2 linked regions of the Homo sapiens genome follow. The protein of the gene in region 2 purifies or fractionates together with the protein of the main gene of each other region. This does not show direct contact. Each region holds a gene or a part of one and is shown on either strand. Other genes may lie near its edges. The genes, in order: CASZ1 and SFMBT2.

What was found.
Region 1: the proteins of SFMBT2 (region 2) and CASZ1 purify together in Homo sapiens (affinity purification with mass spectrometry; one large-scale study listed by BioGRID and IntAct). This does not show direct contact.

Annotation. Positions count from the first base shown.
Region 1 is NC_000001.11:10,649,929-10,653,739, forward strand, and holds part of CASZ1 (zinc finger protein castor homolog 1), read right to left. Parts: coding exon 3,449-3,811; intron 1,149-3,448; coding exon 1,013-1,148; intron 828-1,012; coding exon 764-827; intron 1-763. UniProt on the Homo sapiens protein: Transcriptional activator. Involved in vascular assembly and morphogenesis through direct transcriptional regulation of EGFL7.
Region 2 is NC_000010.11:7,404,232-7,408,042, forward strand, and holds part of SFMBT2 (scm-like with four MBT domains protein 2), read right to left. Parts: intron 1,516-3,811; exon of another isoform or gene 1,252-1,515; intron 1-1,251.

The sequences.
Region 1 (3,811 bases), on a different chromosome or scaffold from region 2:
CGGGAGGGGGTCATTGCGAGGATCCAAGGGAAGGGAGGGGGTCGTGGGGGCGGAGGCCAAAGGAAGGGGAGGGGGAAGGAGAGCAAGAGGGCAAGTGGCCAAGGAGTGGATGCCACGGACCAGTGAGGCTCCTTCCCCACCGAGTGCCCGGCTGGGGCCCTGCGGCGAGAGGTCCGGCCCGGGCCCGGCCCCTCCTCAGGGCAGTCACTTGTGTACAGTAACCGAATTAATCTTGCTGTAGTCAAATGTATCATGTGAAGGGGAAAAATGTATTTGAGATGATGTATAATTTACAAAGACCCTGCATTATTTAAAATAAATATTCCGGAGCGACCTCTCCGGAAGGCGTCCGAGACCATTACTCAACCGGAAAAGTGGAAATTGATGTTTTGCTCCCACTTTAGTCCCCCCTCCCCCATCCCCTTTTAAACAAACAAAAAATATATATAAAATAAATAAATAAAATTAATAACGAGGCACGAACGAAGTTGAAGGGCTCTGGAAAAGCTTTTGGAGCCCTCCATCTGAAGGGAAAAAAAGGTGTCAGAGGCTGGAATATATTTCTTCAGCCAGTTCATTAAATTAATTTGTAAGCAGTGGCTCTGAAATTATATCCGATGAAAAATGGCCTCAAAATTTAAATGGTACAAACTCATCTTATTAGAGGCAAAACATTAAAAAACAAACACATCCCCCCACCCCCCAGCACAGCTTTAATTTCTCTGGGTGGGGGAACGGGAGGCGTGTGATGGATGGCTCTTACCTTATTCATAAGCGAGGATAAAAGAGATGAATTTGCCGGGACTGCGTGGCCATTTGATTCGTTGCTAGAACACACAAACCAAGGGACTTGAGCTCAGACGGCCGGGGCCTGGGCCCTGGGGCTCACCTTCCCTGCCCGACCCTGGGGCTCCAGCCGAGCCCGCTGCAACTGCCTGGGCGGGACCACCCCGGGGCTCCAGCTCGAAGGTGTGGTTCCCGGGGCTGGCTCCCATAGGGGGCCTCGCCTCACCTGGGCTCCTTCACAGTCAGGTCTAGACTGCGGTCCTGGGAGGCTTCGTGGGGGCCTGGGGCGCCGGTGCTCTCACCGGGTTCCGGCTTCACTTGGGCCGGGGGGAACCTGGCTGGGGTGACCTGCTGCCCGCTTCCTGCAGGGGAGGGGTGGGAAGATGCGTCAGAGGGGCTGAAGGCCTGGCCCGGGCACAGACAGCCGCCGTGCCCCCTGGAGGGAGGGCAGTGGGCTGGGTGGGCCCCGGCTACTGGTCAGCGCTTCTCCCGCTGACGTGATCGCTCGCGACGCTCGCTCCTGTGTGGCAATTCTTCAAGTGATAATTATTGCAAAATTATGTCAAAGTTGTCCTGGCTCAGGGCCTCCTGGAGGAGAAGGGCGGGAGGCTGGGGAGGGGGCTGGGGTGGGGGCGGGGGCCCTTCATTTTCTCCACCAACTGTCACAGTCGATTTGTGGGGCTGCCGCTTAGGCTTTTATTAAAGACTCTGTTAATGCTGAGGGAAAGTGGCAGATCTGGACTGGGAGGGCCCCTCTGTGGTCCCCAGCCCGCGGTTGCTGGGGTGACGGCCCCCGCACGGAGCATGCCCAGGAAGGGCCTCTGCTGTGTCAGGGCGATGGGGCCGATGGCCAATCAGAGCGGCCACACCGGGTGACCTCGCAGTCAAGCTATCCGGGGCAGGGACACGAGGCCAGGCTGGGCCGAGCTGGGTCCGGAAGGGAGCTGGGCGGGTGAGGCCGCAGGAGGCCAGCAGAGCAGGGGTAAAAGAAGTTGCTGACAGGGCCATCCAGCGAGCTTTCCCCTACAATCCCCCAGTGACGGAAATATGAATTTGCCCCAAGGTGCTGTAGCTGACAGAGTGCTGCTTCAGAAACAGCAAGTGGCATTTTATTAAAAAATAAAACGGCCCCCTCCCCTGTGCTTGATCTTTCTTTTGGGAGAAGGAGACTTTTCTAATGAAAACAAAGTACTTGACAGTCTGGCCACCGAGCCCACGTGGCCCTGGAGTGGGCCCTGCCCCATCCATCAGGCACCTGGCTGGAAGGGCGTGGCCAGCGAGGCCCCACCCATGCCTGGACCAGGAGGCGGTCCCTCCACGCGGCCACCGGGCATGAGCGTCCTATTGGGCCTGTGAGAGTTTTCAGACCTTGGGACTTCACATTCCAGCAGCTCTCCAAAGTCACCTGCCCAAGGTCCCAGGAAAACGGCCCAGCTCCCCTGCCAAGCACTGGCAGCCTCTGCAAGGTGTGGGCAGAGCCCCAGACTGGGCCACAGGGACCCTCAGTCTTGGCTGGTTCTGAGAGGGTTTCGAATGGGAACAGGGCATCTAGGCCCAGGAGCCCCACTCCTGCGGGCAGCGCCTTGGTTCACCACTTCCTAGCCATGTGCCCGGGACAGACCATCCCTGACCGTCTGCTGGCTCCACGGCGTGGGGCTCTGTCTGGCGTCCCGCCTGCTGTGTCCCCAGCACCCGGCTTGGAGCCTGGCTCTCAGCAAGCATCAGTGGTTGTTGAATGAATAAGTGAAATGAGCCACATCCCAGATGTGAACGGAACTCTCCTCAAGGATTCAACAAATAGGAACTACCCAGAGCAGGGAAACTGGGAGAGGAGTGAGGTAAACAGAAAACACCCTCACCCCAATCCAGAGAAAAATGGAGGGAAATTTTTTTAAAATGGATATTTATGAAATTATAGGAAGGCAGGAAAGAGAACTGCGCCCCTCAGTGAACCAGCGTGAAGAAGGAAGATGCAACTCCGGGGCTCTGGCCCTTTTCTGTCTGACGTGGCAGTCCCTGGCCAAGTGTGGTTGTTTAAAGTGACAATCCCGCTTCCCAATCACAGACCCAGCTTCAAGCACCAACAGTCACACGTGGCCAGTGGCTGCCAAGTCAAACACTGCAGAATAGAAGGCTTCCAAGGCCTGGAAAGTCCTACTGCAATGGCACTCATGGAGGAGGGAGCCTGGGAAGGGCGTCCCTGGGCCTGGAGGTGTCCAGGTGTGAGGTGCAGCCCCACTACCGCTGGGCTGGACGCAGGCCCTGCTCCAGGTCAGCTGGAGGAAACGCTCGGCACGCCAGGGGCCCTGGGCCTGCTCTTATCAGGGTGGACTTGGGATGTGGGAGGGTGAGCAGACAGGGAGGGGGGACCTGCAGTGGCCCCAGGGATGCAGGGCAGCCGAGGAGGCAGGGACCATCGCCCCCAGCTCACAGATGGGGAAACAGAAGCATGGCCCCCCTACTGTGGGGAGCCAGAACCAGGGGCCCCACATAGAAACCAACAGGATGGGGGCGAAGATCAGGCAAAGAGGGGGTGCTGGCAAGCAGGGGCCACACGGACACTTCTTCCAAACACCCCCCGACTCTGCTCTGCAGCCTGAGGCCAGGTGGCCACCCCAGTCCAGAAGGTGCCTGCTTTCTGGGCAGGACCCAGCCTGCTCACCTGGGTCAAAGGTGGCAGAGGGCTTGAGGGCAGCTGCAGCCAGCCTGGCCATCATGGGCGAGATGAGGCCCTTGCTTGCAGAGATCCTCTCCATGATGGAGGCGGGTGGTGCCGGGACAGAGGCGGCAGCCACGGGGGCTGAGTCTCCAGCTCCCGAGGCGACCAGCGTGGGTGTGTCAGGGGTGGCTGAGGCTGCTGACCCAGACGACACGGCACCCAGGAGGCTGGGGGTGCCCACAGGCAGGGAGGTGCTCCCACGGCCAGCCAGTATGGGGAAGTAGGGCGTGGGGGTGGGCAGGCCCGAGTTGGAGAGGGCCAGGGCCAGGGGGATTGAGCCAGGCAGGCCCTGGGGCAGCAGCCCCG
Region 2 (3,811 bases):
TTGCAGGTGCTCATTTAAGTTATACCTAAAACAAGACTTTGTAGGAACCTAGAGTTGGAATTCCACACTCTTGTATCATACCTTAAAGTATTCAGTTCATATAGTAGTGTTGATTGAAATGGAGGGGAAAGAAAACAACTTGCCAAGTTTGGCAGAAAGCAGGGAAGGCATACCTTAATATCTGTTTATAAGACATCTTTTTCTTGGCCAATAAAACTACAGGGAAAAACTCACAAGATGAAAACCTGCCGCTTCTCCCCCATGTCCCACACCTCCATACACTTCCTGTCTAATCACAGTTGCTAACATTATTTGTCCTACTTTGCAGAAGTCACCAAATGCTTAGGAAGCCCTGGATCTATCAAAATGTGTCATTTTTGCTTTTCAGAAAATGAGAAAGGAATGAAACAGAAAAACGCAATGGATTCTTTCTTTAATCAATGTCAAAGACATCTATCTCATCACATGAATGGAAGCCTAGACGTGTCATCTCATCAATAACCTGAGAGACCCTAACCATCAGTGCATATTGACATATTACCGCTTTTGCTTTTTAAAATTTACTACAGGCCAACCAGATGGGAAGTGTTAAGGTGGCATCTTCTCATCAGCACAGTGATGAACTGATCATGCAAAACCAATCCTGAAGGATTTTACTTGGAAACATTACATGAATCATGTGACACATTCTTTCTTATACTAAAAGTTCTAAGCAGACTATCTTCCCTTCCTTACAATACAGTCTTACAGTCTTGTAAACATCTTATTTACACTTGACTTAAACATAGAGCCAACACTTGTTTTAGCCAACGAGAGTATTTTTCTTAGGAATTGTCCCAGAAATTTTTAGTCTAACAAAGAGAGGAAGACCTGCCCAGCGGCCAAACCTGAACCCTAGGAACGGAAAACCTTGAACTTCAGAGTGGATGCTCACACTCACTTGCTGGCTACCAGAAGGCTGCAATCATCATCCATATCATAAACATGGACCCATGAGGTCCAAGCACCCTCCCATCTGGAATGGTGGGGTACACTGTGCTATCTGGAAGAGTCTCTTTGAGCCTGGAAATTATTAGAACAAGATGACATCAGGTGTTTCCTCATGGCTTGTATTCAAAGGCACACTGCTCTAACCCAGTCCATACCTTTATGGGGTTATGTGGGAAGGCCACATATGTATAAGCCTCCATCTTCTCTACCCTTCGCCTTTTCCAGAGCACAGATGAAAACACGACCCCATGTGGAGCTTACCTCACTTAACAATAGCACTTTACTCTGCAGCAGGGACCCACAGCTCAGCTGCTGCCTTCACAAGCACGGTTGCACATGGATGTCACCTAAGGCCAGTCAGGTTTTCATTATCCTTTAGGGGAACATGAGTATGAAAGATGAATCTCTTGGGCCTATCTGCATAGATGTACTGAATCACAGATGTATTTTTCCCAGATAGAAGCACAGTGATCATTGAGTGACATTCCAGGCTAGCACCTTTATTTTGTAGATAAGGAGGTTGAGGCTGAGAAAGATGACTCACTTGTCCCAGATCCCACAGCTGAACAGAACCATGTCCACCTACACACTAGGCCCGATTCCCCCCCCGACCCCCGCTCTCTCTGTCAGGAATCTTCCTTAGCAGCTAGTGTTAACACATCCTGGATCACCAAACTGAATACACACATTGACTTCCTGGTTTGTTGTGACGCATAATTTCCCAACTTTTTTTTTTTTTTAATTTGTATGATGGGGGCAATAAGTTGCTGCTGAGGCAACATAGATATAAGAATGGTTAGAAAAACCACAAAATGCATCCTGAATTACAGGTCCCAATGCCATTTTGGTACAAAAACCTTTATGACTTCTTACTTTAGGGCAGAGTAAAATTTCCTTCTGACCACTGCACCCATGAACCTCAAAAGTACAGAGTAATAAAATATAAAGAGAGAAATGTCCAACCCTAGTATACTAGAACTGTAGGTCATTCAAATCCCACAGTGAACTATTTTTGTTCAAATTATTTAAAAAAAGAAAAAGAAAAAGAAAACTCTGATAATCTGACAAAAATTTTTAGGCATAAGTGTAGGGCCTGGGGAGAGTAAATTTCCTTTACGGACTTCTTAGATCCCAAAAGTATCCTGTATCAATTACATAGAACCTCATTTTCTTACTGCTCAAAGCAATGCTTCCATCGCTCACTATTTCTTCTCAAATGTGGGAGTCCTTTGGGGGCAGTGGTTAAAAAAAAAAAAAAAAGCCACCTTAGCTAGAGTGGGCAGCAATGGAAAAATGGATAAGTGTTTAGTACTCCCAGGAAAGCTTTATGATGAAAACGAAACAGGGAAGAGTCAGGAACCTTTTCTGGCTTTTTAAAAGTCTTGACTTTTAAGTCAAGAATCGTGAAGCCAGTTATTTATAACAACCAATGTTAAAAAAAATAGTCTATAATGTCTGCAAGAACGCAGGAAGAGGAAAAACTCTGCGATGTATGACTTCCATCATTACTGAAACGCATCTCCAGCAGGACCTGCTGTTTGAGGTTCAGGATGGATGTATCCCAATGGGAAATGGGAAACAGTTCCCACCTCAGCAGGCCTCCACCGGCACTTCTACAGCAACACACATCAGAACAGAGTGGATGACCACTCTCTATTCCAGGATGGGGGCTGCGAGACCCCCGGCTCGGGGCAGTGTTCTGCACCGGCCCAAGAATGGGTCCTGCAAGCAGTAAACTCTTTGGTGGGGACCTAGAGGGTTGGCGGGGGGGGAGGGAAGTGGAGAAGTGCGTGGGTGTCTCCCACTCTCTTGCAGGCAGGCAGCTTGGTCCCAGCAAGAGCAAAGATAAGATCTGAGACGGTATTTATTTATGGAAGGGAGAAAGCAGAGTGTGTGCAAATTTAATGCTTAGTAGGGAAAAAGCAGGAGACCTCCTATCTCCAGGGCGGGCCTAGGGAACAATTCCTGCTGAGCAACAACGCCTCTCCCCTCCCCCACCCCACTTACCCGCTCAACTCCCTCCCCACCCCCAACAGCCTCCCCAGGAAACGAGGCCACATTTAAGCCTGTTTTCTCCTTTTCTCCGACCTGCTGGAACATGGGTTCTTTCCCTTGGTGTAGACACGCTAGTAGGTCTCCCAGTTCCCTTCTCTACGGTGCAAGAGTGGAGGGGGGATGGAGAGTGGTGGGCAGCGGCAACCGAGCCAGATCCAAGAGGGGTCGGCCTCGTCTAAATTGGTTTCCCACCAATGGCCTCGGATCAGCCGCGGCTGTGCTGCGGGAGCCCTCAGGACGCGGCTGGGGTTGGTGCGCGGGGCCCCGGAACCCCAAACCCGGCTCGGTTCGGCAAGGTTCAGGGAGACAAGGTAGAGAAGGCTGGGGTGAGCGAGAAGTCGGGCGGCCGATCGTCAGGGCCACGAGCCTCGCCTTGCCTTCTTGGAATCCCACCCAACTTTAAAGGCCCAAAGATCCTGAAAATTCCGAAAGCGAAACTGCGAGCTGGTCTCCAGAAGTTTGAGAACGGTCTCCCAGGCTTTCCAGCGTCGTCCCGGGATTCTCGGACACCACAAACGCCATCAACCACGAGCACCGGTGTCCGTGGCTATTGCCCCGAATGGTCCCCATCCGCGTCCCCGGGAACTCCCTCGGCTTTTCGCGCATCCAGGTCCCCAGCCCCAGCTACTGGTGCGCCCCGAGCCCCTAGGTGCCAGAGCGGTGGTCGGCCGGGCTCCTGCCCAGTCTCGGCTCCTCCCTCCTCCCCACCAGAAGGAAAAACTTGGGCCCTTCGAGAACCCTGTGGAATGTTCTTTGTAATCAACTG